Homo sapiens: one gene and its partners. The protein of the gene in region 1 binds, or shares a complex with, the protein of each later gene. Each region holds a gene or a part of one and is shown on either strand. Other genes may lie near its edges. A codon is read from its position in the direction of its gene.

Region 1 (7,639 bases):
CAGGCTTGCGAGACTGCATCCTTTGAACAATAGGCACTAGATTTCTCCGTAGATAACTTCAAGGAGCCCGGCACCAGGGAGCGCGGCCCTCAGCCAACCTTTTGGTGGCAGGCACAGTGTGAGTTTGCTCACATCCTGCATTCTTGATAAACAGTTTGCTGTTTGATAATATAGCCTCCAGTGGAATGCTGAGTTGGTCACAATCCCTTTGGCCTTTTCAGCTCCCAACATCTGACCTGACTGCTGGCCTCTCCTATCATCAACCTGCTCCAGCATCACTGCCTCTTTGCTCATCCTCAGCCGACCTTCCTGGGGCCTTTGCAGCTTGATTCCTCTGCCTGGAATTTCCTGCCTTCCCTAAGGCCCATAACCACTTGGGTTATTTTCTCCCTGTTCAGGTCTGTGCCTTCTCTGAACACTTGAACTCAAAACCCTGACTCTTTCACCTTCACTCTATTCATCTTCTTTGGGTTATTCTTAGTGCTTTTTCACCAATATATTTCTTATCAGTGTATCTGTGTATTGCGTTTTCCCACACTGGAATGTAGACTCTGTAGAAAGGACTTTGTTTACTGCTTTATTTTCAGTATCTAGGTCAATGCCAGGCTAATACTAGTGTAAACCAAAAATAAAATCCCAAACCCTCCATCCCCTGCTGACTGGATGGACCCCTTCTGGGCCAAGGGGACCCCAGGGAAACCTGAAAAAAAACAAAAATGGAATTATCGGCTATGACAAGAAGCAAGATGGGATGCACCTTGTTGTACCCCCTCCCTTTTGGAGTATAGGTGCAACTGGCCAGCATTAACATTAAAATAAAGATCCTAAGACTCACAAACACACTCTTTGTGGCAATAAGGTCCAAACTCCAACCTGACTGATGTAGCATCACATGACAGATAGCAGACTCTGAAGGAAATCAAGATGTTTTACCCCAAAATATATTTCTTTGAAATATTTTGAAATGGCCCTGGAAAGCCATCTTTTGTGTGGGGAATTTGCATCTGTTAAGAATCTCCGTTAATGCAGCCAGGTCTTTCCTGAATCTAGGAGAGGTTAAACAAGAGTTTAACACACCTTTTAAGATCCAAAAAGAGACATTTACCATCAATTCTTTCAGAAGGCTGCTGCCTATGAGGCTTCATCCACATAACAAGAAACTTGGTCTCCACAACCTCCCCCTTAACTCAATAATTTCCTTCTATTGACAGTCTTTAGACAAAACTTGACTCAACCAATTGCTAATCAGAAAATCTGTAAGCTCCCTGCTTCAAGATATCCCACCTTTTTAGGCTGAACAAAAGTACACCTTCCATGTGTTGATTTATGATTTTACCTATAATTCCTGTCTCCCTAAAATACATAAAACCAACCTGTAACCTGTAACTGCACTGCCTCAGGCACGCTTTCTCAGGACCTCTTGAGGCTGTTCCTGGGCCATGGTCACTCATTGGCTCAGAATAAATCTCTTTAAATATTTTAGAGTTTGGTTTTAACTTCAACACTAGGCATTTCATAAATATTTGCAGAAGGTATGACTGAATCATCTTAACTCCTTAGAGGTGGTTCCACTGTTCTCATTCTACTGTTAAGGAAGTGAGTCTTGGGGTCATTAATGAACTTTGCCTCTGGGCTGAAATTAAAAAGGCCTATGGCTGAGGAGGGTAGTGCATGCTGGTCTTTGATTCAGTCCTGCAGCATAGTCCAGTCTAGAGTTGTGTATTTGGGAAAAACACCTAGATAAACTATTCCTTACTGTAGAGATGAAAATATAATTGCCCAAGGGATTCTCCTTGTCCACTGCCCAGACAGAGCTGATTTATCAAGACAGGGGAGTTGCAATAGAGAAAGAGTTTTTTGGTTTTTTGTTTGTTTGTTTGTTTGTTTGTTTTTTGAGACAGAGTCTTGCTCTGTCGCTCAGGCTGGAGCTCAATGGCACAATCTCAGCTCATTGCAACCTCCGCCTCCAGTGTTCAAGTGATTCTCCTGCCTCAGCCTCCCAAGTAGCTGGGATTACAGGCATGTGCCACCAGGCCCAGCTAATTTTTTTTTTTTTTTTTTTGAGACAGAGTCTCACTCTGTCACCCAGGCTGGAGTGCAGTGGTGAGATCTCGGCCCACTGCAACCTCCACCTCCTGGGTTCAAGCAATTCTCCTTCCTCAGCCTCCTGAGTAGCTGGGATTACAGGCGTGTGCCACCATGTTCAGCTAATTTTTTTGTATTTTTAGTAGAGATGGGGTTTCGCTGTGTTGGCCAGGCTGGTTTTGAACTTCTGACCTCAGGTCATCCACCTTGGCCTCCCAAAGTGCTGGGATTACAGGTGTGAGCCACCATGCCCGGACAGGCTAATTTTTGCATTTTTAGTATAGATGGGGTTTCACCATGTTGGCCAGACTGGTCTCGAACTCCTGACCTCAGGTGATCCACCCGCCTCAGTCTCCCAGTGTGCTGGGATTACAGGCGTGAGCCACTGGGCCTGGCTGAGAAAGAGTTTAATTCACGCAGACCCAGCTGTACAGGAGACTGGAGTTTTATTATCGCTCAAATCAGTCTCCTAGAAAACTCCAAGATAGGGATTTTAAAGGATAATTTAGTGGGTAGGGGGTCACAAAGTGAGGGGTGCTGATTGGTTGGATGAGAGATAAAATCATAGAGAGTCAAAGCTGTCCTCTTGGGCTGAGTCAGTTCTTGGGTGGGGACCACAAGACCAGATGAGCCAGTTTATCGATCTGGGTGGTGCCAGCTGATCCCATCAAGTGCAGGGTCTACAAAATATCTCAAGCACTGGTCTTAGGTTTTATAATAGTGCTGCTATCCCTAGGAGCACTTGGGGAGGTTTTAGAATCTTGTAGCCTCCCGCTGCGAGACTCGTAAATTTCTAGTCTTGTGGCTACTCTGTTACTCCTGCAAAGGCAATCTAGTCCCCAGACAAAAAGGGTTTCGCTTTGGTAAAGGGCTAAGTATTTGTTTCAAAATTAAACTATAAACTAAGTTTCTCCCCAAGTTAATTCGCCCTAAGCCCAGGAATGAACAAGGATGGCTTGGCGGTTAGAAGCAAGATGGAGCCAGTTAGGTCAGATCTCTTTCACTGTAATAATTTTCTCTATTATAATTTTTTCAAAGGCGGTTTCAAAAAGGCAATGTTTGCTGGGTGCGGTGGCTCACGCTGTAATTCCAGCACTTTGGGAGGCCCAGGCGGACGGATCCCTTGAGCTCAAGAGTTGTCGACCAGACTGGCCAACATGGTGAAACCCTGTCTCTACTTAAAATACAAAATAGCCAGGTGTGGTGGCCTGAGCCTGTAGTCCCAGCTACTCAGAGGGCTGAGGGGGGAAAATTACCTCAGCCCGGGAAGTGGAGGCTGCAGTGAGCTGAGATGGCGCCACTGCACTCCACCTGGGTAACGGGAGTTAAGACCCTGTCTCCAAAAAAAAAAGGCAATGTCATTATTCAACATAAGCCTGAGTAGGCCATTCCCATGCCCATTCCTTAGATGACATATCTACTGTATATTTGCAAAAGATCAACATAGTTTCTAGGGTTAGCTAGAATTAATCCAAGATTGCGCCGGTTGCGGTGGCTCATGCCTGTAATCCCAGCACTTTGGGAGGCCGAGGTGGGCGGATCACGAGGTCAGGAAATTGAGACCGTCCTGGCTAACACGGTGAAACCCCGTCTATACTTAAAAAATTCAAAAAATTAGCTGGGCGTGGTGGCGGGCGCCTGTAGTCCCAGCTACTCGGGAGGCTGAGGCAGGAGAATGGCGTGAACCCGGGAGGCGGAGCTTACAGTGAGCCGAGTTCGCGCCACTGCACTCCAGCCTGGGCGACAGAGCGAGACTCCATCTCAAAAAAAAAAAAATCCAAGATTGCTTGTTAGAAATTAACATTGCTTTTTGAAAAATTGCCTAATAAAACAATTCTTTAGCAGTGATTCCCATCTTCCATATGCTTAAGAAATATTCCATAACCATCTAGCCAAGAAAATTCCTAGTGAATTCGTATTAATCTAGGGCAGATATTACAAATATTTTTAAAAGACTATTTTAAAATCAAAGGGTGGTACTGTGGTGTTGGAAATGGAAAGCCTAAATAACAGTCTAATCACTCTGGAGCTGTGTGACCTTGGGCAAGTTACCTAACTTCTGTTTCCTTATTAATCCCGGGTCTTAAAACACTTCAGAGATAATTGTGGGAATGAAATACACACTGCAGTCCCTACCAGCACTAGGTACCCAATAAAAGAGAGTTTCATTTTAATATCAAACAGAAAACCCGCACTGCAAAACTGAAACCCTTGCGTCCTACCAATGCACACCAAGTTTTTGGGCCTTTCCTCTTAACCTCAAAGTGCTCTTTTCTTGAACCTAAACGAGAATGAATGAATCAAAAGGAAAATGACAAGGAAGCTGCGGGGCGTGCATTTATTTCCAGCTCTGCTGCCCGTAGAGTCCCCCGGCCCACTGCCTGAGAACTGGAAAAGCCGTCTCTGCTCAGCCGAGGGGTTCTGCCATCTCCGGGGCGGGGACCTCACCTTGGAAAGACCCCTCCCACTCCGCCCCTCTTGGAATGCGGCTGAGCGGTGGATGTCCCTTTTCGGGCGCCGTAGGCGCGTTCCTATTGGCTAGCTTTGTTCGGCGCCAAAGCGCGGAGCGGAGGCCGAGGCGAGAGCCTGGCGCTGTAGGACTAGAACGAAAGGAGTGAGGCGCCGAGAGCCCAGATACCATTTTGGCGTGAGAGCTGGTGGTTGGCAAGGCCGCGGGAGTGGGAAGCGTCCGCCATGTTCTGCGAAAAAGCCATGGAACTGATCCGCGAGCTGCATCGCGCGCCCGAAGGGCAACTGCCTGCCTTCAACGTGAGGGGCGGGTAGACTTGGACGGGGCATGCCGGCGTTGGGCCCTGGGCTCTGGGGCGGGGCGGCTCCCCGTCAGGGTTCACTTTCGCACCTTGTTCCCTCCGAGCTCCGGAAAACTTGGGAAGCAGCAAAACAAAATTCAGGAGGAAAGAGAAAGCATTCATGCTTACGCTACCCAGCGATTTGGTGAATTTCCTCATCTGAGCAAATTTTGCATTTTAGCAGTTTTCCTTGGACAGATTTGTTCCGGTCCCTTAAAATATTTACAGGTTGCCTGATAATTTAGCATTTCTTGCTCACTCAGGCATCTAATCGTGGTCAGTAAAAGCTAGGCCTCTGGAACCTGGCTGAGATTCTGGTTCTGTAGTGTGACTTTGGGGCAGTTACTCAAGCTTTCTGTGCTCTCAGTTTTCTCATACGCAAAAATGGGGATGGTGACAATAATAGTACCCAACGCATGATGTAGTGGACGCAAAATGAGTGGCATGTGTAAGGGTCTCTGCATATGCCTCACATACAGTAAGGGCTGAGTCAGTGTTAGCTATTAATATTACTTTTCTCCTGCTGCTGCTGTTACTATTAATATTATGATTATTTGTATTTTTCTATCACTGCTACCCCAGGGAGAGTGCTAAGCACTTCATGTACATTATCTTTTGTCTTTCTAATAACCCTTTGAGGGCCCGGTACCATGGCTCCTGCCTGTAATCCCAGCACTTTGGGAGGCTGAGGCGGGAGGATCGCTTGATCCTGCCACTGCATTCCAGCCTGAGTGACAGGGAGACCCTGTCCCAAACAAAACAAAAATAACTTTTTGATGTTTAAACTATTGTTTTCTACTTTTTTCAGCTATATATGCATAGGATTGGGGAGATTTAAGTATATTGCCTAAGGTGACACAGCAAGAAAGCTAGGATTTGAACCCTGGCACTCTGGCTCCAGAGCCTGCACTCTAAATTGTATATTTCACTTACGTCATAGAGCAGGCATTATGTGGATGTCAGGACACATTCTGCTGGAAGATGGGCACAAAAACAGATAATAGAATTCACCACGCTAAGTGATACTAAGGAGGTATAGCAAGGAGCACGAAGGAGAAACACCAGTATGAGCTGGGGTAGAAGAGGTGATATATGAGCCTTTCCATCCTCAAGGATGAGGTTACTGATCTGAGAAGGAAGCGAGGCATCCCAGCCAAAGGATGCTGCAGCACAAAGTCACGTGGTCACACTGGAGAGGGTGACCAATAGGGCCTGTGGGGAGTCTAGGAAGGTGGCTCACAGCCTACATGAATTTGTTGTTCACTTATAAGGCATGCTGGGAGCTGGTAGAGGATTTTAGACAAGGAAGTGATAGGGTAATTTTTGTGTTTTGAAGGTAACTGCGGCAGCAATATGGGGAATGGATTGAAGAGAGGAAAGAATGGGACAGGGAGATGGCTACTGGGTGGCTGATAGAGCAGGTGAGAGGTGTGTGGTCTGAACTGTGTCAGGTCAGTGGCACTGAGATCAGTGTTTGGGTTTTAGAGACATGAAGCAAACATGACTTGTAGCTATTAGAGCAGGGGCAGAGATGGGGTCCATAATGAATAAGAGGGAGGAATTGGGATCTTGGAGGATCCTTAGGAAACTGGGTAAACAACATCAGAGTTCAGGAGATAGAGTGTGTTGGGAAAGGTAATGAGTTTTGTTTTGAACACTAAAGAGCACCTAGCCAGACAATTAGATTGTCTTACAAATGAAGAAACTGAGCTGACACAAATTATGGGTCAAGTTAAGGAACTCGTCTGAATTTACAGCATATTGGAGGTAGAGCTTCAACTTGAACACAGGTTTTCCAGTTTCTAGTCAATTGTTTTTTCAACTTCAGAGCAGTTACCTCATTTAAAAAGTTAGGCAGCAGTCTGCAGCTCAGTAGAGATGCTTGAATGCAGAAGTGTGTAAATGCTAAAATGTGGCCTGAGAACTAGGAACTTTAGAGGTCATTGTACATATCAGGACACAGGCCTAGAGAACAGAGAGACTGTGCAAACAGGTGCGGCCAAGCTGGATTTTGGACCTGACTCTGACACTTAGTTTAGCTCTCTGTTTTACTCAAATTTTAAGTTAAGTGTTGGGTTATCACTTTGTGGGGCTAGGGGCTGGTCTTAGAAGTTGTAGAATCAGGCCAGGAGTGGTGGCTCACGCCTGTAATCCCCCCACTTTGGGAGGCTGAGGCGGGCGGATTACAGGGTCCTGAGATTGAGACCATCCTGGCTAACATGGTGAAACCCCGTATCTACTAAAAATACAAAAAATTAGCCAGGCGTGGTGGGATGTGCCTGTAGTCCCAGCTACTCGGAAGGCTGAGGCAGGAGAATGGCTTGAATCTGGGAGGCGGAGGTTGCAGTGAGCCAAGATCGGGTCACTGCACTACAGCCTGGGCGACAGAGAGAGACTCCGCCTCAAAAAAAAAAAAAAGTTGTAGAATCACTGTCTTGTAGGTCTTAATTTGGTGGAGCACCTTTTGTCTCACTAGTGCCTTCCACTGACAAACCCACCTGATACTCAAGGTGATCCAGCAGCCTGGAACACTTAGTCAGCCTGCAGAGGCTGGCCTCCGACTCAGCGGCACAGAGGAAGGCTGACAGTGGATCTGAGAGGCCCAAGGACCACACAGGCTTTTCTCTTTTTTTTATTGTTTTGAGATGGGAGTTTCGCTCCTGTGGCCCAGGCTGGAGTGCAATGGTGTGATCTCGGCTCACTGCAACCTCCGCCTTCTGGGTTAAGCAATTCTCCTGCCTCAG
Region 2 (7,976 bases), on another chromosome or scaffold:
CCAGACCCCATCTCTACAAAAAATTGAATTAGCCGGGCATGGTGGCACATGCCTGTGGTCCCAGCTACTTGGGAGCCTGAGGCATTGCTTGAGCCTGGGATGTTGAGGCTGCAGTGAGCTGTGACTGAGCAACTGCACTCCAACCTGGGTGATAGAGCAAGATCCTGTCAAAAAAAAAAAAAAAAAAAAAAAAAAGAAAAAGAAAAAAGAAAAAATTCTCAACACTTTTTAATATTGATTACATATTGAAATGGCAATATTTTGGATATGTTAGGTTAAATATATTACTAAATTAATTTCAACTGTTTCTTTTTTACTTTTTAAAATGTGGCTACTATAAAATTTAGAATTATGTATGTGTCTTGTATATTTCTATCCAGCAGCACTGATCTAAAAGTCTTTGTTCCAGGACAGAATTAGGTATACAGATTACAGATGCTTAACTAATATTTGATTGTTTGGTATGGCTAAAGCTCTTCATCATTTTTAAAAACATTTATTTCTTTTTTCCCCTACCATGCCAATGTACATCATTTTATTACATTAAGGGACTGTATCTTTAAAAATGCATGCTTACAACAAATCTAGACAGATTTACAGAATGGAGTTATTATCAGAGCATTTCATATGCTATATTCATATTCACTCAATTTGTGTTTAATCATTTCCTTCTGCAAATCTGTGGTTCTAAGCATTGAAGCAAAGCTCTTCAGAGCATCAGTAAAGACTTGTACAATTAAGAATGGGGGCTCAGCCGGGTGCAGTGGCTCACACCTGTAATTCCAGCACTTTGAGAGGCCGAGGTGGGTGGATCATGAGGTCAGGAGTTCAAGCCTGACCAACATGGTGAAACCCAGTCTCTGCTAAAAATACAAAAATTAGCTGGGCATGGTGGCGCCTGCCTGTAATCCCAGCTACTCGGGAGGCTGAGGCAGGAGAATTGCTTGAACCCGAGAGGTAGAGGTGGCAGTGAGCCGAGATTGCACACTGCACTCCAGTCTGGGCGACAGAGCGAGACTTCGTCAAAAAAAAAAAAAAAAGAATGGGGGCTGGGCATGGTGGCTCACGCCAAGGTGGTAGGATCACTTGAGGCCAGGAGTTTAAGACCATTCTGGGCAGCATAGTGAACCTATCTCTCAGAAAGAAAAAGAATGGGGATGACTTCTTACGGACTAAGAAATCAGATTACTGAAATTAACCTTGGCAAATACCAATGAATCACTAATTGTTGGCAAGCCAACTGTGTTGTTATATTTAATGGGAAAATCATGATCACTGATGTTCTCTGTCTGGCTCCTGGATTTTCCGGCTCTTTTTAGCATATCTAACCGGAAGGACTCCAGGAAGCAACAGAAGAGTGCAAAAGGGAGACAAGAAAGGTGATCAGACTCGTTTATTTATTTATTTTTTGAGACAGAGTTTCACTTTTGTCACCCAGGCTGGAGTGCAATGGCGTGATCTTGGCTTATTGCAACCTCCGCCTCCTGGGTTCAAGCGATTATCCTGCCTCAGTCTTCCAAGTAGCTGGGATTATAGGTGCCGGCCACCATGCCTAGCTAATTTTTTTGTATTTTTGGTAGAGACGGGGTTTCACTATGTTGGCCAGGCTGGTCTTGAACTCCTGACCTCAGGTGATCCACTTGCCTCGGCCTCACAAATTGCTAGGATTACTGGTGTGAGCCACTGTGCCGGCTGACCAGACTCTTTTAAAAGAGTTTTATAAAGGAGTCCATTTAGTATTCCATAATGTTCTTTGAGCATGGAGTAAATGCATCTGATGGCTTCCAACACTGTCGGAATCCGAGCCAAACAACACCCTGCCTATGTTATTTTTTTTAGCCAATTGGACTTCCAGCAGAAAAAGGTCCCACTCAAGGAAGTGTCTGGGTTGGTTGTATTGTAAGTTTTTTGGTGGAAGTGGGAAGGGGGTTTGAATTTGGTTGTCTGAATTGTTTCAGAATGCACTACAGTGCTTCCTCCCCTTCTCCTATCCCTTGACTCCTCTCCAACTACCATTCACCACCACTACCAATGGTTAACATTTATTTAATGCTTACTACATACCAGGCACTTTTTTCAGTAGTTTACATCTGTTATGACTTCACTGGATACTTAAACATTTGAGTTAGATACTACTAACCTAATTTGAAAGGTGAAGAAACTGAGGCACAGAGTGGTTAAGTAAGTTGCCTAGTCGTGCAGGTAATATACAGAGCAGCCAGAAAGAGTAACCAAATCTGCCTGTCTTGGTGCTTGAAACTCTAGATGCTACAGCATCTGAAGATTCTGACTTCACACTGCAGAACTGTGAGGTTAGGGCAAGCCTGTGCCTACAGATTATTCCTTGAGCTGCTGTGACACCTGGAGGCATAGATTTGCTCACCTCCAAGCTTTGGTGGCCTTTGAGTAAATGTCAAAGGACTGCTAATGAATTATGGCACTTTCCTGAGTGCCTAAACAAGTTATTAATTACAGGGTATTATTTGAAATGTTTTGCAACATATAATGTTCATTAGTTTGAACAAAGGTATATATAATTTCTTGTAATAATATTTATTATGGATTTGTATTGTGTCTTTGGGTATTTTTTGGACCCTGAGGACATAGAAAAATGGCAGTATTACATCTATTTTGCAATCTCTTTGCAATCTTGTTTTCTTTCCATTCTCTTCCTGTATACTCTGCTCTCCAGGGAGCCCCCTAGCGTTTAGGCAGCCTTGGAGATGGGCTTGAGTCCATTAAAGTCTAGGGTGGAAAGAAAATTGAAATGGAGGAAAGCAGGAATGTGACCCAAGTATGGAAACTGTAGATACACTACTTTATTAGATTATATGTGCTTTTTAATTTTGAATCAGGATAGAGGAGGACTACGGGCTAAGCTCAGCTGGACTTTTTATGAGATATGTACAAATGCCCCTAATTTTTCTGTAGCAACAACCTGATTGATTTTGGGCAGTTTGCAGGTGTCGGGGATAACAAAGGAAATACATTTCCTCTGCTTAAAGATTTCATGCCCTAATGAAAGAAGGGAGAAACACCAATTAAATAGCGGTGTGTCCTTCACAGCTGAAGATGATTATATTGGGACAAATCAAGTCTTTATCAAAGACCATGGCATGATTAATTCATTAAATAGAATTGTCTTTACATAGTTTCCAAATTTGCCATTAGCTCATGGAATGTTAGAGTAAGACAGATTATCAGAGATATTCTAATTCAGTTTCTTCATCTTATACTGTATATAAGGAAACAAGCCCAGAAAAAAGTGTGAGAATCAAAGATGTGGTTTTCAGATTTCCACTCTTTTGGACTTTCTACTACAAATGACTCGACTTCTTTGCTAGTTTGAACTAAGCTTCCCGGTTCTTTTAGTGTTAATTTCAAATTGTTTCCAGAGCAGAGGATATCTCAGTACTCTGTCCAATAAGTTCATAAAATAAGAGTTATGAGTAAAAAGTCTTAATAAATCAGTAATTACCTCTTGCTATATAACGGCAAACAGTATCTTTATTCTAGAATTTTCTTTTTTTTTTGCCCGTTAATAAACATAAAAGCAAGCAGTCAAATGACAGCCTTTTTGCTTTGGCTAAGGATCGATTTATCTGCCCACTAGGATGGCACAAAACATACAGTAACTATAAACTGAATAATAACTAGAAATACATATACCCACACAAATAGATGGCCTATATATTTTGTTTAGGCAGATTATTCTTAGAATATTTATCAGTACATAGTGAGTCCTGAAGACTTTAAAACATAAGCTAATAGTTGGCTGAAATTTCAGATAAAGAATTATCAAATGTCTGATGTTGGGCAATCCAGTATTTCAGCTTCTTGTTCAGTAAAATTAAAAACACATGCTGGGGCAATGGGCTTGCTCTTTATTGTGCAGAGTGGTTACATGGGTGTAAGCACAGGTAAAAATTCACTGAGCTGTACACTTAAGATTTGTGCATTTTACTGTATATACATTATATCTCAAAATAAAACTAGAAATATAAGAAAAAGCCAACCACGACGGACTGAAAACAAACATACAAATTTGGACGTGCGATGATCTTTTAGTCATTATGGTTTCAGATTTGCTGTTAGTTACTGATTGATATTTAATCAAAGTGACGTGAAACACTTTTTCCCCTCTTGAGCTGATCGTTCAGTAAGCTAAGTTACTTAAAAGGATCTTGTGATCTTTTTATAAGACCAGAAAGCCTTTAATTTACCTGTTATTAAGTAAGATGGAGTAGTAACGGTTTCCAAAATTTGTATAACACACGATGAAGTCTCTAGGGGGCAGGGTAAACACAGATTTTTTTTTTCACTTCATCCTTCTCTGCGGCGATGTCTTTATGGAGTTCGTCAGGCAACGGTATCAGATAGCAAATGGGTTTTTAACTAATCTTTCCCTAAGGTACTGTAGTTCTATATTCTATCCTATAGATTCTCAAAATCCACTTTTACACTAGGATGCCACTGGAGGGCAGTTCTGATTTGGATATATCTTAAAAATGATTTGCTTTTATGTTTTCATCTCCCTGCGTTATAAAGCACCATCCTCTGAATTTGGTCGTTGCATCGGGTCAAAAGTTCTGCAGCTTGAAAAACCCTGCAAAAACATCCGGAAAGGAGGGAGAACACTACAACTCCCAGAACGCAATGCTTTCCCTCTCGCCAGCCTGTCCCCTCCAGCTGCTCAATGACCAGCCTCTGTGAGCCTCCTCTCAGCCCTATTGGTCAGTTTGCTCGTCAGTGAGTGAGGCGGAGGGAGGGGAGGAACAGAGAATCCCGGATGGTACGTTTCCCGCCACCGCGGGGCGCGCAGCGGAAAACCCGAAGAAGAAGAAGCTTTTGATTGGACAGTCGCTAGTCCGACCTCAGAGAACTCAGCCAATCATAATGCTTATATGCTCCCAAGGTCCCCGCCTCTTCCTCGAGGTAACCTTTGGTGGCGGGAAGAGTTCGGAAGTTTTCGCGCCGGGGTGGAGTCATCCTGGGAACCTCCACGCGACTTTGGTGGAGGTAGTTCTTTGGCAGCGGGCATGGCGGGTACCGTGGTGCTGGACGATGTGGAGCTGCGGGAGGCTCAGAGAGATTACCTGGACTTCCTGGACGACGAGGTGAGGGAGGCGCCGGCGCGCGGGCTCTAGCGCTCGGAGCCCCTGCGGACGCGGCCCGGCCGGGAAGCCAGAGGCCCGCCAGACCTCCAGACCGTGTGCCGCAGCGGAGCCTGCCGGGCCCGAGCCTCCAGCCCCAATCTTGTAACTTCTCAACGCCGGACTCGCTAGTTTGTGTTCGATAAGTGAACTCTTAGGAAGCCAGCTTTCTCTTAAGTACAAGCGATGGTCCGGGCGCGCAAAAGGCGACAGGTTCCCATTAAGTGCAAGCAGATTGGCAAAGCCCACCTCGGCCTTTTGCATTTCACTGCTCTCTCTTGATTTGAGGAGACTGTGGGGGAGGGGCTGCCCTAGGGCTATAGTGACCAGCCGCGTTGCAGAGTGCTCAGATTTTAGGGACTGACGTTTTACCTGGAGGAAAAGACTCCATAATTCGGCTGCATTCTTTTTCAATACCAACTAAGATGCAGATAAAAAGTGTTTTGTGTGCAGGCCAAGGGGATTTTATGTGCAACCCAAGACTTAAAGCCATAGAATGTTGAAAAAACCATCTTGAAGGGTTGATGATGTGACCAAATAGCTGAGATTCTCTATTCCTTTAGGTCGGGGTATGAGAACCCTTTCCGTATTATAGAGATGATTGGAAAAAATATTACTTTTTACATAATTCTTAAATGAAAAGCCATTTTAATGTGACTATTAAGAGTCTGTTTTATTTACATTTTTATTGTATATATTTGAAGTGCACATGTTTTGATATACATGGTGAAATGATTACTACAGTGAAACAACATATCCATCTATTCACGTTGTTACCTTTAACATTCACATTGCTAGGTTTAACTTAACATTTTAACAAAGTTTGCACTTACTGTCCATTTAGACTTCTCATGAGCTCATTTTAATTCTCCACTAAAGACAGAAATTACAGCATGCAGAAAAGTTGTCCATGATGATGGGAATAACAGCATGGACCTTGAGGAAGTCATTATAATTCTTATAGTCCCCTCTTAGGGTGTTATTTCGAATCTAAAAACAGTGAATGAAAGGGAGAAATTGATGAGCACATACTTACTGGGGATTCAGCTCTGCTGCAGAGATTGACTTAGCTATCTGGCTATGAGAACTACTTCTGTTTAGAAACATTGTTTTTAAATTTGTGGCTATGGTGATATGTGGTGGCTGTTTTGCAGGAAGACCAGGGAATTTATCAGAGCAAAGTTCGGGAGCTGATCAGTGACAACCAATACCGGCTGATTGTCAATGTGAATGACCTGCGCAGGAAAAACGAGAAGAGGGCTAACCGGTGAGAGGCAAGGGGATATACTGGCTGTCAGTGAGAATGGCTCCCTTCCCTCTTGGCCAGATTGGAACAGCCTCTCAGGAGAGGACTTGTATGAAACAGGATTGATCTACAAGCCCTCGTAGCTCACCTGCACCTATTTTTTTTTTTTTTTTTTTCAAAAAGTGGGTGGTTGGCATTTTCCTCCCAAATGCCCCTCCTTCCAATGTTTAGCTGAATATCATTTTTATATCTTTGATAAGTTGAGGTGAAGTTGGTCCTTAGTTCTGGTATTTTACTGAGTCTTATAGGATGGTGTTTTACTGAGACTTATAGGAGAAAGCAGAAGCTGGATTTTCTCATTGTTTTTAATGATCTAAGAATGTCTGCTGTTTTGAGGATCCATTTTTTTGAGTTCTGCCCAGTCTAATTTTTCTTTCTCTTGCTTATGTACAGGCTTCTGAACAATGCCTTTGAGGAGCTGGTTGCCTTCCAGCGGGCCTTAAAGGATTTTGTGGCCTCCATTGATGCTACCTATGCCAAGCAGTATGAGGAGTTCTACGTAGGACTGGAAGGCAGCTTTGGCTCCAAGCACGTCTCCCCGCGGACTCTTACCTCCTGCTTCCTCAGCTGTGTGGTCTGTGTGGAGGGCATTGTCACTAAATGTAAGTGGGTTAAAGGGGGCCGCTTAGGAAATGAATAGACAGGGAGATGGGGAAAGCAGGAGAGGCAAAGTAGATCTGGGTAGCTTGTGGCTTCAAAGAGGTGGAGCATTGGAATTACGTGGTAAAACTTGGAGGGCTCAGTGTGTACAATGATTGGGGGACCTTGAGTAATCACATGTATTAGTAGAATGATGAATTCTGCTGAGAGCTGGAGGAGTCTTGGTTCCTGGCAATCTCTAATTCCAACCTCTAACTCCACCTATTTATTAGTTGGGATTGGTGGTACTTAAAATTTTACATGGATATGGTGGTGGTCTATATATAAATAAAAAAGTGAATAAAAGGTAATATTGAAATATCGTAACCTAGTCAAAAAAACACAGTATTTGGAGTCATTATAGGCTTGCATATGTTTGGGTTCCACCTGTATCATCGTCTAGTTGGGTGAGTTTATATATGCACATTTTCCATCCCTAGGTTCTCTAGTTCGTCCCAAAGTCGTCCGCAGTGTCCACTACTGTCCTGCTACTAAGAAGACCATAGAGCGACGTTATTCTGATCTCACCACCCTGGTGGCCTTTCCCTCCAGCTCTGTCTATCCTACCAAGGTAAGGGGGATAAATCAGTTGAGCTGTCTTGGAGGTTGGAATCAAAGATACCTGTTTTAAGGCAAGGAATTGTGTAATATCTGAAGTCTTTTTTCTGTAAAGGGTGAAAAATAAGGATTAATCCAAAGGAAAGATTGATTGCAGGCCAGAGTTTAATATGAAAAGCCCACAATTCTTATTTATTTATTTATTTATTTTTAAAGATGAGGTTCTCCTATGTTGCCTAAGTTGGAGTGCAGTGGGTATTTGCAGGTGCAGTCATGGTGCACTAAATTTGCAAACTCCGGGGCTCAAGTGATCCTCCCAA
Region 3 (7,017 bases), on another chromosome or scaffold:
GTTTCCACCTATTGACAATTATGACTAATGCTGCTGTGAACTTGCATGTACAAGTTTTTGTGTAGTCATGTCTTTGTTTCTTTTGGTTATATACCTACATGTGGAAATGCTGGGTGACATGGTAACACTAGGTTTCAAGGAACTGCCAGATTTTTGAGGAACTGCCAGACTTTTCCACAGCAGCTGCACCATTTTACATTCCCACCAGGAGGGAGGGTTTCAATTTCTTCACATCCTCACCGACACTTGTTATTGTCCATCTTTTGGATTACATTCATCCTAGTGAGTATGAAGTGGTATCTCGTTATGGTTTTGATTTGCATTTTACTGATGACTAATAGTGTTGAGCATCTTCTCATGTGCTTATTGGTCATTTGTGTATCTTGTTAGGAGAATTGTCTATTCAAGTCCTTTGTCTTTTTTTTTTTTTTTTTTTGAGACAGGGTGTCACTCTGTTGCTCAAGCTGGAGTGCAGTGGTGCAGTCATGGCTCACTGCAGCCTCAAACTCCTTGGCTCAAGCCATCCTCCCACCTCAGCCTCCTGAATAGGTGGGATTACAGGCATGAGCTACCACACCTGCTAATTTTTAAATTTTTAGTAGAGATGAGATCTTACCATGTTGCTCAGGCTGGTCTCAAACTCCTGGGCTCAAGCAGTCTTCCAGCCTTGGCCTCCCAAAGCACTGGGATTATAGGTATGAACCACCGTGCCCAGCCTAAAACTTTTATATATTCTACATACAAATCCCTTATCAGATAAGTAATTTGCAAGTATTTTCTCCCATTCTGTAGGCTGACTTTTCACTTTGGCAGTGTCCTGTGAAGTATAAGATTTGTTAATTTTGATGACATTTAAGTTACCTACTTTTTCTTTTGTTTCTTGTGCTTTTGGTGTCATATCTAAGAAACCATTGCCTAACCCAAGGTCATGAAGATTTCACATTATTTTTTCTACTAACACTTTAATAGTTTTAGCCCTTACATTAGGAGTATGATTCACTGGAGGTTTTTTTTTTTTTTTTTTTTGAGACAGGGTCTTACTCTGTCACTTAAGCTGGCATGCAGTGGCATGATTTCCACTCACTGCAACCTCTGCCTCCCAGGTAGCTGGGACTACAGGCATGTGCCACTGCACCTGGCTAATTTTTGTATTTTTTGTAGAGACATGTTGGTCAGGCTGGGCCCCTTACTCTTTACTATAGTCTCCTTACACTTCAGCAAGGCCCCTTGCTCTTTACCATGCCCCCTTATACTTTACCAGGCTCCCTTGCTGTTTAACAGGACCCCTTGCTCATTACCAGGACTCCTTGCACTCCAGGGAGGCTCCTTAAACTTTCCCTTGGCCCACTGCACTCACCTGCTCTTGCATAGGGCAAAACTCTCAGTTTGGGCCGCTGCTCTCCAGTTGCCTGGAGTTTTAAGTCTTCTTAGGTCTCACTACCTCTTGGCTTTCTCTCGCACTGATGTAGATAGTATACCTGTCTGGCTGTTCATGGTCTCTTTTTACCTGCTTACACTTTGGGGTTTGAAGTGTTCCCTTGTTCTCTTAATTTGTTGCAAATGTGGGTCCTAGGTTTTTGGTTTTGCAATCTAGTTGCTCTACTTTTATCTAGAAATTTGGGAAAATCCAAAAACTATTTTACCACTGTTGCTGCCATCATCCCAGCATTGATGGGTAGGCTTTAGACATTGTCTACCAACTTCCTGCTATGACAAAGGAGCATTTATCCCACTCTTGTCCACCTTCCCTCCTGTTGGTACAGTTTTGCCACTATTTTTAACTTCTTTGTAACTTTAACATATTTATGTCTTCTTTCATCACTAGTATCTCGTCTCCCTACTTTGTAAGAAAAGGATATTTAAAACACTCTTAGTCCATTTTGTGTTGCTATAAAGGAATACCTGAGGCTGAGTAATTTATAAAGAGAAAAGGTTTATTTGCCTCATAATTCTGATGGCTGGAATGCTCAAGATTGGGCATCTGCATCTGGTGAGGGCCTCAGGCTGCTTCCACTCATGGCAGAAGGGGAGCTGGTGGGTGCAGAGACCATGTGGCAATGGAGGAAGGAAGAGAGAGGAGGAAGGTACTAGGCTCTTTTTAACAACCGTCACGGGAACTAATAGAGTAAGAACTCACTTACACCCCCTAGCCCCAGGGAGAGCATTCATCTATTCATGAGGGGTCTGCACCCATGACCCAACACTTCCCACTAGACCCCACCTCGAAGATCTTGGATCAGATTTCAACATGAGGTTTTGAGGGGACAAATGTCCAAGGTGTAGAAACAGCCTTACTTTGCTCTTCAGTGCTGCTCAGTACTTTCTGAAATTTGTGCTTTTACGTTTTCAAGACTGATAACAATCTTGGGTTAGAGAAAAAGATATAAATTGTCTTATCTTTGGTTACAGGTTGATTTTAAAAGTTGAAAGTAAACAAATAGTTTTACTTTATTGTGCTAATAAACTATTCCAGAGACAATCATGTGTAGTAATAGATTACTATCTGGCACGGCTCTTTGTTTTTCCTGCTGTTTTTAATTGCCTCCTTTATCACATCCATTTTTTTCTCCTCCAAACTCCTTCCAGCTGTTTTTCTGTGAGCCCCTTTTTGCTGGAGAGTCTGGGGTTCTGTCTTCCCACCACAGCCTGGACCTACAGCTCTCTAGACCTGCTTTCCACTGTCCCCATGGATGTCCAAATCTTGGCTGTGCCTCTTAGTTTAGTCCAATGTTTCTTGGGATCTTCATCTTTGTTTCATTTACTCCCTCATTAAATTAGAGCACAGTTCTTAAGTAACATTCAAAGAAAGGGCGCATGTGAGATAAACTTTCTGAGTTCTTATATATCTGACAATATCTTTATTTTACTATTTCTTTACTATTCCCCCCACAGAAAACATCCGTGTTTTTTATTCTTGCTTTTCAGGCTTCCTGGAATGACGATGCTCTGTCTTATTTTTTTGCCTTACATTTTCCATAGCTTTGTCTTGTTATCTATGTTGAGGAAGTTTTTCTTGACTCCAGACTTGGAGTGGATGTTTTATCTTTTGCAACTGTTTTAATTTCCATCAACATTTCCTAGTTTTTAACTCTTCCTTTTTCATAGCATCCTGTTCTTGGTTTAGGAATGTAAGAGTTGCACACATCTCTCTGAAGATACTAATTAGAGTTCAGTTTAACTTTCTTTAGTTCTCCAAATTATCTGTTTCTTCAGGGTTATTTTTTTAGGCCATAGGCATTTCTCAAATGGTCTGATGTCTTTCATATTCAAGAACGGGATTGTGGACCCTTGGCTGGGCCATGGGTATCTGGGCACAGCTCACTGGTCATAAGACATCGTTTCACCTTAGCAGGCAGGAGCCAACTGTGACACTTTGGGACTCCCCACTGTAGGGCCCAGAGGCTTTGCTTGAGGATTCTACTTATTCACAGATGGTACATTTCATATACTCAGAGGGGAGCCTCCCTTTTTGTGGGGAAGAGTAAAAATCTATCTGTTGGGTTTGAGGGGATCCCTTGTCCAACCTCCAGCCCTTGCCCAAGCCTCCCCTGTGTCAGAGTCCTCCTGGGCCTTCAGGATCTTCCCTTTGTTGGCTTTTAGTTTCCTGTCTTCTGATACTTGCACCCGCTCCACCTCTCATTTGCATTACTGTGGGTTTATACATTTTAAAAAATTCTTTCCTTTCATGTGAAAGACAACTCAGGAGGGAAAGAAGATAAATTCTTACCCCCAAACCTCTTCCTGAACCAGGAACCAAGCAAACTATTTGTGACTTTGGTATTTTACCAAGAGTTCCTGACAAGCACCACCAAAGCCATGTGTCTGCCCTGTTACAGGAGTAACCTGGACAAGCTGTACCATGGCCTGGAACTCGCCAAGAAGCAGCTGCGAGCCACCCAGCAGACCATTGCCAGCTGCCTTTGCACCAACCTCGTCATCTCCCAGGGGCCTTTCCTGTACTGCTCTCTCATGGAGGTCAGGCTTCCCACAGAGCACAGGCGCCTGGTCACAGCACCAGTGGCTTCGTCTGACCATCTGTCTCGCCTCCGCAGGGCACTCCAGATGTCATGCTGTTCTCTAGGCCGGCATCCCTAAGCCTGCTCAGCAAACACCTGCTCAAGTCCTTTGTGTGTTCGGTGAGGGGCCAGGCGGGTGCTGTGGGTACAGGAGGGCAGGTGCTTGGAGAGCTCCCTGGATGGGGAGTTAGATGCTGGCCTTGGGGTGCCTGTGGCTGTTGACCAGCTGCAAGGTCTAGGCACATCCATTACTTTTTCTGAGCTGTCTTTTTCTCAGCTGACCCCTAGGAACCTTCCAGTTCTCTCAAGCTCTGATTCATCACTGGCTGTCTAAGTCACTCAGACAAGTAGGGAGGGGCCCTTGCAGAGTGAACAGGGCTGGGGCTTGTGTCCTATTGTTGCAGGTCAGGGAAAGCGGGATGGTTGTAGCACCGACTGGCTTCCCAGCAACAGCTTGTCCACTAAGCTGATTTCCTGTGCCTGGCTTTGTCTTCTGTGTGGCCTAACCCCCTCTTTGCGTTGGCGTGGAACACACTCCTAACTTGGCTGGCTTTAGGGCAGGGGTCCTCACCTAGCCGACATGGGGCTCCTCCCAGATGTGACATGTCAATAATTGAAGTCCTCCTCTGCTTCGAGGATGAGAGTTTATGCCGGGGGCTATTTCAAACAAAATGTGCTAACAGGAAGTTGAACTTTTCTTTTGCCGCTGAACTAACCAGTAAAATGATGACAGATGACATGTGTTCTATCAACCAGGTAATGTCAAAGATAAACTAGGGACAGAGCATGGGCCTTGACGTCCTCTAGGCTGTGTTCAAAGATGAGCCTCCTCATTTGCCAGTTGTGTGACGTGAGGTAGATGATCTGACCTGATCCTCAGTTTCCTCATCCGTGAAATGGGTGAACACATACCCACTTTACAGGATCCATTCATTTACCAGACATGTATTGAACATCCACCACCTGCCCGGCCCTGTTGTGGAGTGACTGCCCATCCTGGTGCACATCCTGGGACACCCCTCAGTCCTAGACACACCAGGAATACTGGTCACCTGGGCTGTAGGGTGTGGGTGCAGCAGGCACAGCAGAGAAGGAAACCCTAAACCTTTATCCTGAAGGAGCGTGCCGGCGGGGGGGACGAGGAGTGGCAGCTGCGGTTAAGATGAGGGGATGTGCTGCCAGGGGATGGAGCAGGATGAGGCGGGGTGGGCTGGGGCCTCCTGGAGAAGGTGGCAGCTGCTGCAGGACCTGAAGGAGGTGAGGGAGAGGATAGCAGGGCAGGCTCCTTGCAACAAACAGCCAAGGGGCAGTGGGGCTAGGCTGGTAGACAAGGAGGCTCGGGGACACAGCATCACAGCCACAGTACCATGCTGTGGGTACGGGAGGGCAGGTGTTTGGAGAGCTCCCTGGACTGGGAGTTAGACACTGGCCTTGGGCATCTAACTTGGGGTGGCTGGGTGGGGACCAAGGCGTCTCCTGGTGACAGCGTCCCTGGAGGCTTTGGGGAGTGGAGTGACTGGGCGCTGTTGGGCTCTGGGCTCTGAGTGTTGAGCTGGGGCCCACCATACCCTGACGGAGGGTGCTCTCCGACTCCATAGACAAAGAACCGGCGCTGCAAACTGCTGCCCCTGGTGATGGCTGCCCCCCTGAGCATGGAGCATGGCACAGTGACCGTGGTGGGCATCCCCCCAGAGACCGACAGCTCGGACAGGAAGAAGTGAGCAGCTTCCACTCGTCCTGGGACTGGAGGGTCGGGGGTGTTGGGGTTATCAGCTTATTAGCCCTGCTGAGTAGAGTGGTATTTGCCTCTAGTGTCTGTCCTGGGGCGGGGGGTGGGAAGGGTCCATTGCAGGCCGCCTGGCCCCCGACATGTCTTGTGTGTCAGCAGCTTTTTTGGGAGGGCGTTTGAGAAGGCAGCGGAAAGCACCAGCTCCCGGATGCTGCACAACCATTTTGACCTCTCAGGTGAGAGTCTCCTGCCACTCTGCCACACTTTCCCACCTGACCCTTTGAGGCTATTGCAGGCCCTGGAACCAAGCAAGTTGGCATGGCTGGAGGAGCCTGGCCAGCAGCCCTCTTGACCTTCCAGATCTGGCCCTGGGACAGGCTACTCCTGGTGGCTCAGGGAGCTCTGGTGAACCTCAGGCCCCTGAGAGGGAAAAAGTGTTTTCCAGGGAATGACTGGCCTGGCTGTGGCCTTACAGCGGCCTTACAGCCAGTGCTAAGGATCACTTTCCCAGCAAGCCTAGGGGACTGGCCACCAGGGCCCGTGTGCCCCGATCTCACCTGTCAGGGTTGGGTTGTTTCTGTTTCATGGGGTGAGGGAACAGCAGGGCCCGTGATGACCCAGGACACCAACCCTTGCTGCGCCAGCCACCTCTCCACAGGCCGGGGTGTGTGTCGTGATAGGTGCTACCTGTGAGATGGCTGGGACACCGGCCCCACCTGTGTGTCAGATGAGCCCAGAATGGATAGGCCTGCCTGCCCACTGCTTCCCCAGCACCAGCACGGAACATGGTTCACATTCGGCTGTGTTGGCGTTCTTATTATTGTTGACAGGTTTTAAAGTAAAACAGACGTATTGATATTTCACCCCGGGTTAGTTTGCTAAAGCTGCCATAACAAAGTGCCACAGACAGGGTGGCTTCAACCACGTGTCTCCTCCCAGTCCTAGAGGCGAGAAGGCCCAGGTCAAGGTGGGGCAGGGCTGGCTTCTCCTCAGGCCTCTCTCCTTGGCTCACACAGATGACCACCTTCTCACTGTGTCCTCACGTGGTCTTTCCTCTGCATACCTCCTTGGTGTCTGTGTCCAAACCGTTTCATCTTCCAAGGACACCAGACAGATTGGATTAGAGCCCACCCTAACAACCACATTTGAACTTAATTACCATAGTCACATTCTAAGGTCCTGGGGGTAAGGGCTTCAACATAGAGATGTGGGGGAGACCGTTCAGCTCATAACACCCTCAGTACTTCCTGCACCTCTGAGAAAGGATATTTT
Region 4 (7,827 bases), on another chromosome or scaffold:
CCCCATCTCTACTAAAAACACAAAAATTAGCCGGGCATGGAGGCACATGCCTGTAATCTCAGCTACTCTGGAGGCCAAGGCAAGAGAATCGCTTGAACCTGGGAGGCAGAGGTTGCAGTGAACCAAGATCATGCCACTGCACTCCAGCCTGGGCAACAGAGCGAGACTCTGTCTCAAAAAATAAAAATAATGTACCACTGGGCCAGGTGCAGTGGCTCACGCCTGTAATCCCAGCACTTTGGGAGGCCGAGGCGAGCGGATCACAAGGTCAGGAGATCCAGACCATCCTGGCTAACATGGTGAAACCCCGTCTCTACTAAAAATACAAAAAATTATCGGGCGTGGTGGCAGGCGCCTGTAGTCCCAGCTACTCGGGAGGCTGAGGCAGGAGAATGACGTAAACCCAGGAGGCGGAGCTGGCAGTGAACCGAGATCACGCCACTGTACTCTAGCCTGGGCGACAGAGTGAGACTCTGTCTCAAAAAATAGTAATAATAATAATAACGTATGGCTGTCCACAAATATTTTGGCTGTTTCTATTTGCTGTGTCTATAATTTCCATTAACATCTTCACTGAGAATATCTGAATATTGCTGTGGCTTGTCACTTTCTTCAGTTGTATAGGATCCTATTTTCTGTATCTTCCTCTTCCACTTTGGGCAGTAGCTTTTTCCTTCTCTTTCGAGGTAACTTCATGTTTTACTTGTCTGAATTCATGTTAGTATGTTCATCTTGCAATTTAAATCATCTAAGCTTGCCTGCAAATTCTATCCACAAACTTCATCCTCCTAATATAATAATCTATGTAATCACCTTTTATCTGTGATCATTTTAATGAATTGCATTCCATTTATATGGCTATCTTATTATTTCTAAAACACTTCTTGACAGTGGGTGCACATCAACCAGGTGTTCCTGATTTTTCTCTTCATTCTATATAATGTAATTGAAGACCTCTTTTCTCCCACCTTCCTGAACTTTACAGTGCCAAACGATCAACACCAAAAGTTTGTGTGTTGCTTTGGCATTTCTTTTAATAACCCTTCTTTACACAGCAGAAATATTTTTCTGCCAACTCATTTCCTCTAAAAGTGTTTTTGTCTAATGAATATTAGTTGTAATCAAAGATCTTAGAAGTGAAACGGGTCCCTCAATTTTTTGGTCTGTCCCTCTGTCTTCAGGCAGACACATATTAATTTTGTGTAAAAGGTGGTGTGATTAGCCAGGCGCGGTTGGATCACTCCTGTAATCCCAGCAATTTGGGAGGCTGAGACAGGTGGATCACTTGAGGTCAGGAGTTCGAGACTAGCCTGGCAACCATAGCAAAACCCCATCTCTACTAAAATACAAAAATTAGCCAGGCGCGATGGCGTGCACCTGTAGTCCCAGCTACTCGGGAGGCTGAGGTGGGAGAATCGTTTGAACCTGGAAGGCAGAGGTTGCAGTGAGCTGCGATCACACCATTGCACTTCAGCCTGGGTGATAGAGTGAGACTCCATCTCACAAAAAAAAAAAAAAAAAAAAAAAAAAAAAAAGGTGGTGTGACTGATGGCCAGGTGTGGTGGCCCCCTCCTGTAATCCTAGCACTTTGGGAGGCCGAGGCGGGCAGATCACTTGAGGTCAAGAGTTCAAGATCAGCCTGGCCAACATGGTGAAACCCCGTCTCTACTAAAAATACAAAAATTAGCCAAGCGCGGTGGCACATGCCTATAATCCCAGCTACTCAGGAGGCTGAGGCAGGAGAAGCACTTGAACCCAGGAGGCAGAGGTTGCAGTGCACCAAGATCGCACCATTGGACTTCAGCCTGAGGGACAACAGCGAAACGTCATCTAACAACAACAGCAAAAAAGGTGGTGCAACTGAAATCCAAAGTGACTCGTTTAAGGTCACACCTCTATTAAGTAAGGAAGCAGAAGCTGGGCTCTAGCTCTCCAGTGGAGGAGCGGGGGAGATTGGAGAAGGTGGTTGGACCCAGAGAAGGGAAGTTTTTAAATCAATAAACTACATAATCGGCACTTGTGTAGAGACGTTATCTATGCTTGGACTCAAATATGTAACAATTAAGGAATATTAATAAACATCATTGAAAAGCTATTTGGTAATGAGAATTATGGAAGAATGCGATTGTGCTCAAAGACCACTGTTCCAGTCAGCTAATGCTACATAACAAACCACTCCAAAACTTAGGGCCTAAAACAACAACAATACTTATTTTGCTCACAAATCTGCGATTTGGGCAGGGCTCAGCAGAGAAGCTCATCTCTGCTCCCTTCATCTTAGCTGGGACGGTTTGAAGCCTCAGCACTAGAATCACCTGAAGGCTCATTCAACCCAGACATCTGGAGAATGGAACAACTGGGGTTCTGGGGTTCCTCCAGTAAGGCTCCCCATCTCTGCCTGGCATCTTCATATCGACTCTCTTGCACATCGACTGCAGGCTAGCCAGACTTCTTCCACGTCAGCCCACAGCTCTCAAGAGATGGGGCTCCAGAAAAAAGAGCCAAGTGGAAGCCACATTGCCTTTTATGACTTAGTCCCAGAAGCCAAGCAGCATCACTTCTGCCAAATTCTCTTGGTCAAAGCAGTTAAAAAACTCTTTCCTGATGTAAAAGGCAAGAACAGGGCCAGGCGCTGTGGCTCACACCTGTAATCCCAGCACTTTGGGAGGCTGAGGTGAGCAGATCACTTGAGCCCGAGTTCAAGACCAGCCTGAGCAACATGATGAAACCCCACCTCTACCAAAAATACAAAAAATTAGCCAGGCATGGTACACACCTGTAGTCCCAGCTACTCATGGGGGCTGAAGTGGGAGGATCACCTGAGCCCAGGAAGGTCAAGGGTGCAATGAGCCGTGACCGCCCCACTGCACTCCAGGCTGCGCGACAGAGTGAGGCCCTGTCTCTAAATAAATAAATAGAAGGTGAGAACATAGACCCCACCTCTTGATGGAGGAGTGTCAATGTCACATGGTAAGAAGGGTATGTGGGGTGAGATCCATATTAGAGCAGCTATGTTTGGGAAACACACTCTGCCACAACCAAAAACCACTGGATTACCAAACCGTTGAAACAGACCTTGAAATAACCACCTATTTGCCACTCACAAAATTCATTTCATAAGACACAGCTCAAATGTCCCTTCCTTTTGGGAATCCCGTGCTGATATGCCCCAGCTTACACAGCGCTTTGTAAAGATGCCTACTCTCTCACTCGGCTTATTCTATTGTCATTTTCATAACAGGATTGTAATCAGGCAGGTACGATCATACTATATTAGCCAATCATTTTACTAGTCAATCAATATGACATCATAGGGCAGCTTTGCAAAGAGCCCTCAGATTGATGGAGAAGAGATACTTTTAGGGAAGCCAGAAGCAACGCTTTGCACAGAAAACAAAGGACAGCAAAGAGAAAAGAATCAGCAACTCAGAGAAGAAAAACTGGATCACACAAAGATGGAAAAAATATATACATATACAGACATGGGTTTTTGTGCTTTTCCCCTCCAGAAGGTGAGTTGAAAGCATTGCCCCAAAGCAGTGATTCTCTTTTCTTTTTTCTTTTTTTTTCTTTTTTTTGAGATGGAGTCTGGCTCTGTCTCCCAGGCTGGAGTGCAGTGACGCCATCTTGGCTCACTGCAGGCTCCGCCTCCCGGGTTCACGCCATTCTCCCGCCTCAGCCTCCCGAGTAGCTGGGACTACAGGCGCCCGCCACCACGCCCGGCTAATTTTTTTGTATTTTTAGTAGAGACGGGGTTTCACCATGTTAGCCAGGATGGTCTCGATCTCCTGACCTCGTGATCCGCCCACCTCGGCCTCCCAAAGTGCTGGGATTACAGGCGTGAGCCACCGCGCCCGGCCCCAAAGCAGTGATTCTCAAACCTCAGCTGTGTCAGGGTCACCGGGAGGGCCTGGGTCTGGTGAAATACCCCCAGTTTCTGATTCGGTGGGCCAGGGTGGGGCCTGAGAACCTGCATTTTCACGGATTCCCAGGCGATGCTTCTGCTGGTCGTCCGATCCCAGGCTTCAAGAACCAGTACCCACTTTGTGAGGCCGAGGTGGGAGGATTGCTTGGATCCTTGAGTTCGAGACCAGCCTGGCCATCATAGGGAGAACCTCCCCACCCCCAACCCCGCCACAGTTCTTTTTTTTTTTTTTTTTAATTAAAAAATAACTGGGCGTGGTGGCGCTGGCCTGTGGTCCCAGCTACTCCGGAGGCTGAGGTGGGAGGATCGCTGGAGCCCGGGAGGCGGAGGTTGCAGTGAGCTGTGGTGGTGCCACTGCACTCCAGCCTGGGCACCAGAACGAGACCCTGTCTCAAGAAAGATGAAAAGGAATATACTGGAGATTCTGAAGGCAATGACCACACTGACCACAGGTGAAACCCCGCAAAGACGGAGGAACCCAAAGAGCCACGAGAGCTGTGGGTGGAGACGGCCCAGGAGGCTGCAGCGGCCTGCTTTCAACAGCATACTTCTGGGTGGGACCCCCCGGGGCGGACACCGCCGCTCCCCTTGGCCGCGGTGGCGGGCGCCCCCTCCCGACGCTCTTGGGTAGTGCAACCCGGACCGCACAGCGGAGCGGCCGGCCCCCAGGTGGGCGGGGCCAACCCGGACCAGCCTCCCGCCGCCTCAAGTCCTTGGGTTGCTGGGACTGCAGGCCGCCGCGAAGACAGTCCCCGCCCGCCGGGTGGGCGGGCCCAAGGAGACCGCCCCGCTCTTCCCCCCGGGCCTTGATTGGTCAGCGTCGCCCTTGCGCGATGACGTCGTGCCTGGGCGGAAACTTTGCGAGAGTAGCGCGGGAGCTGAGAAGTTGCAGGGTTGAGTTGGTCCCGGCAAGTCCTTGAGCAGTTTGTTCCTCTGTCTTCCCGCTTCCTGGTGCCCCGACTGCGTCCCCACGAACGCCCCGTCCTTACCGCCGGCTGCTGTGGAGTGCCTCGCTGTCTCCCAGGTCCCCGAGTGAGCGTCGAATGGGACCTCTGTGGCTAGGGCAGGCCTGTGTGGGTGGCACTGAGAGGGAGGAGGGGAGGGGGATGTTCGCAGTTTCCTTGCGACCCCAGGGACTTTCTTTGTCCCCGCCATCCACCTCCTTAGGCCTTTGGGATCGCCGACTGGTCTAATGTCGCCGGCCCTTGTGGCTCTGGGAAATTAGCATTGATTAATCTTCCTAACAATTTTTGTTTTTATAGAGACAGGATCTCCCTATGTTGCCCAGGCTGGTCTCGAACTCCTGGGCTCAAGGTATCTTCCTGCCTCGGCTTCCCAAAGTGCTGGGATTACAGGCGTGAGCCCGGCCAGCTCCTAATAATGTTAAGTGCTTGCTAGGAGTCAAGCGCTGTGCTGAGCGCAGGGGCTTCCCACGTCATTGCGTCCCCAGTGCTTAGTGCCAGGCACTGAGCAGAGGCGCGATTCGTATTTGAACTAAAACGAACCCCGTCCCTGAGGAACAAGACCTCTACTGGGAAGTCAAAGAAATGAATAGTGATTGTATGGTGTGATGGGTGCTCAGCTCTTGGTGGACAGAAGTAAGGGGGAGGCTTGTTTGAGAAACGGATACCTGACCTAAGCCTTGGAGGAAGAGGCAGACACTGGAAAACTAGAGTCCCTGCGTTCTCTCACCACTTGCTAAAGGGCCTCTACAACCCCAGGAAACCTCAATAAACCTTTCCTTTCTCCAGATAGATGTCTGTTCTTGCAGATAATTAGAAAACGCATTGCAGAGTATTGGTTCTTTCCCTCTCATTAGGTTCCTGGTTTCAGAGAAGATGACCGAAGAAGTGGATTTCCTGGGACAGGACTCTGATGGGGGTAGTGAGGAAGTGGTCCTAACTCCTGCAGAGCTCATTGAAAGATTGGAGCAGGTAAGCATCCCAGATCGAATCCCTTTGCTCCAGTCAGCCTTTTTATTTAGTTCAACTGTGAATATCAGGGATCACAAGATGAGGAAACGGAATTTGGGGCTTACTTTAGAACAGGGACTGGATCTTACCATCTACATGGAAACGGGAAGCAAGAAGGACATCCTCTGTTAGAGACCTCATCATATCAAACACAGCATCCCCAAGTGGGGTCAGTAAGGGACAGCTTTGGGCACATTCAGTGAACAGTTCACAGAGCAAGGATCCACGTGATATTTTCAGGGACTGTAGAGGTCCCTGAACTTCTTTACCTTAGTCCCTTGAACATCTGCTGTTTCCCTGGAGAATGCCTGTTTAGCAAGAAAATGCTGAAATGCCTGTAAGGGAAAACTGGTCATATTTTTCCTTTTTCTCACATGTTTTTTCTTGAGTCGTCTGCTCTCCATATGTCCACTGCTTATCTAAAATCCTTTCTGAAATATTTCTCCTTTAAGTTGTAATAGCTATGACTTACTGCATATTTCCCATGTGCCAGTAACTGTGTTCTTTACACTTATATCTCATGATGCTCTGGTAACAGGAGTTCAGACTATCTGGATTTAAATCTGTCTGTGACACTCCTCTGTTATGTGATCTTGAGCAAGTTAGGGAGTTTGTCTCAAGCCGTTGCTTGCCTATAAAATTGAGACAATAGGGCCGGGCACGGTGGCTCAAGCCTGTAATGCCAGCACTTTGGGAGGCTGAGGTGGGCGGATCACCTGAGGTCCAGGAGTTCGAGACCAGCCTTACCAACATGGTAAAATCCCGTCTCTACTAAAAAACAAAAATTAGCCGGATGTGGTGGCGCATGCCTGTAATCCCAGCTACTCGGGAGGCTAAGGCCGGAGGATCACCTGAACCTGGGAGGCAGAGGTTGTGGTGAGCCAAGATCCTACCCACCATTGCACTCCAGCCTGGGCAACAAGAGTGAAACTCCGTCTCAAAAAAATAATAAAATAAAATTGAGATGATAATAGTGTCTATGTCCTGGAGTTTTTGATTAAATGTGGTAATTGTGTAAAGCACTCAGCATGCTATCTGACACATGATAAGCACTCACTAGATGTGAGCTGTTCATAGTAAGTATCCTTATCCTCTTGCTCTAACTGCCCCTTTCCAGAGCTCTCTCATGTTTGCTACTTTAGTATTCTTCATTCTTCCCTGCCATACATGATATCACGAATGACAAAACGGAACTAAAATGATTTTTAAATTATACCTTACATGATAATCCTTACTATTTAGCAGTGATTCTTAATCTGTTTTTATATCACAGACCTTTTTGAGAAACTGGTAGAAACTGTGGTCTTTCATCCCACAATAACGCACACATGCACCCATGCAGAATTTTGCATATGACTTCCAGGGGATCAGAGATCCCCTGAAATCCACCCACAGACCTAGTTTGTGGAACAGCATTAAGAATTCCTGGTTCGTTAGGAAAGGGTTCATTAAACAAAAATCAAAAGGCACATAGCATAAAGGAAAAAAGGGATACATTCCTGGAGTGCAGTGGTGTGATCTTGGTTCACTTGCAGCCTCCACCTCCCAGGTTCAAGCGATTCTCCTGCATCAGCCTCCTGAGTAGCTGGGCCTACAGGTGTGCACCACCACGCCTGGCTACTTTTTGTATTTTTAGTAGAGATGGGGTTTCACCATATTGGGTTTCGCTGTGTTGGCCAGGCTGGTCTTGAACTCCTGACCTTGTGATCTGCCTGCCTTAGCCTCCCAAAGTGCTGGGATTACAGGCATGAGCCTCTGTGCCCAGCCTGTTTGTACTTCTGGATTAGAGTGAAAAGACAGGCCACCAGGCTGGGAGAAGATATTTGCAAAATACTAATATGTAGCTGACACAAGATGATTATCCACAGTACATAAACAGCTCTTTCATACTGCCCAGTACAGACTGATACCTCAGAGAAGAAGAAAACA

The links.
Region 2: GINS1 (region 1) and MCM3 share a complex: the UniProt entries of both Homo sapiens proteins name them as parts of the CMG helicase complex.
Region 3: the proteins of GINS1 (region 1) and CDC45 are in contact, whole or in part, in a cryo-EM structure (PDB 6XTY), measured with the Homo sapiens proteins. Residues at the interface, in NP_066545.3 of Homo sapiens: Leu146, Tyr147, Glu149, Arg151, Glu158, Thr165, Ser166, Val167, Leu168, Lys170, Lys171, Asn172, Ser173, Gln174, His175, Phe176, Leu177, Pro178, Leu195; in NP_003495.1 of Homo sapiens: Arg18, Gln37, Phe40, Gln41, His44, Val45, Gln46, Tyr47, Thr48, Leu49, Val50, Pro51, Glu64, His65, Gln68, Phe69, Thr394, Asp395, Ile398, Leu401, Asp402.
Region 4: the proteins of GINS1 (region 1) and GINS4 are in contact, whole or in part, in a crystal structure (PDB 2E9X), measured with the Homo sapiens proteins. Residues at the interface, in NP_066545.3 of Homo sapiens: Phe24 (codon at 4,849), Leu29, Leu33, Met36, Tyr40, Leu69, Leu70, Arg73, Thr76, Val77, Leu80, Tyr81, Leu84, Arg88, Trp92, Glu109, Glu110, Trp113, Asn116, Tyr117, Ser120, Leu121, Tyr124, Ser127, Leu128, Gly129, Gly130, Asp131, Leu134, Ile136; in NP_115712.1 of Homo sapiens: Met55, Glu59, Glu83, Arg84, Arg86, Tyr87, Leu89, Ser90, Leu93, Arg94, Leu97, Glu101, Phe104, Glu125, Glu126, Phe129, Glu132, Phe133, Asn136, Thr137, Tyr140, Leu141, Val144, Ala145, Leu146, His148, Met149, Pro150, Pro151, Asn152.

Annotation. Positions count from the first base shown.
Region 1 is NC_000020.11:25,403,042-25,410,680, forward strand, and holds the start of GINS1 (DNA replication complex GINS protein PSF1), read left to right. Parts: upstream 1-4,631; 5' UTR 4,632-4,779; coding exon 4,780-4,854; intron 4,855-5,029; exon of another isoform or gene 5,030-5,254; intron 5,255-7,639. UniProt on the Homo sapiens protein: Required for correct functioning of the GINS complex, a complex that plays an essential role in the initiation of DNA replication, and progression of DNA replication forks.
Region 2 is NC_000006.12:52,281,738-52,289,713, reverse strand, and holds the start of MCM3 (DNA replication licensing factor MCM3), read left to right. Parts: upstream 1-4,971; 5' UTR 4,972-5,039; coding exon 5,040-5,117; intron 5,118-6,307; coding exon 6,308-6,420; intron 6,421-6,852; coding exon 6,853-7,061; intron 7,062-7,538; coding exon 7,539-7,669; intron 7,670-7,976. UniProt on the Homo sapiens protein: Acts as a component of the MCM2-7 complex (MCM complex) which is the replicative helicase essential for 'once per cell cycle' DNA replication initiation and elongation in eukaryotic cells.
Region 3 is NC_000022.11:19,510,913-19,517,929, forward strand, and holds part of CDC45 (cell division control protein 45 homolog), read left to right. Parts: intron 1-3,836; coding exon 3,837-3,975; intron 3,976-4,052; coding exon 4,053-4,136; intron 4,137-5,614; coding exon 5,615-5,733; intron 5,734-5,901; coding exon of another isoform or gene 5,902-5,904; coding exon 5,905-5,981; intron 5,982-7,017. UniProt on the Homo sapiens protein: Required for initiation of chromosomal DNA replication. Core component of CDC45-MCM-GINS (CMG) helicase, the molecular machine that unwinds template DNA during replication, and around which the replisome is built.
Region 4 is NC_000008.11:41,524,440-41,532,266, forward strand, and holds the start of GINS4 (DNA replication complex GINS protein SLD5), read left to right. Parts: upstream 1-4,821; 5' UTR 4,822-4,957; intron 4,958-5,744; 5' UTR 5,745-5,763; coding exon 5,764-5,859; intron 5,860-7,827. UniProt on the Homo sapiens protein: Required for correct functioning of the GINS complex, a complex that plays an essential role in the initiation of DNA replication, and progression of DNA replication forks.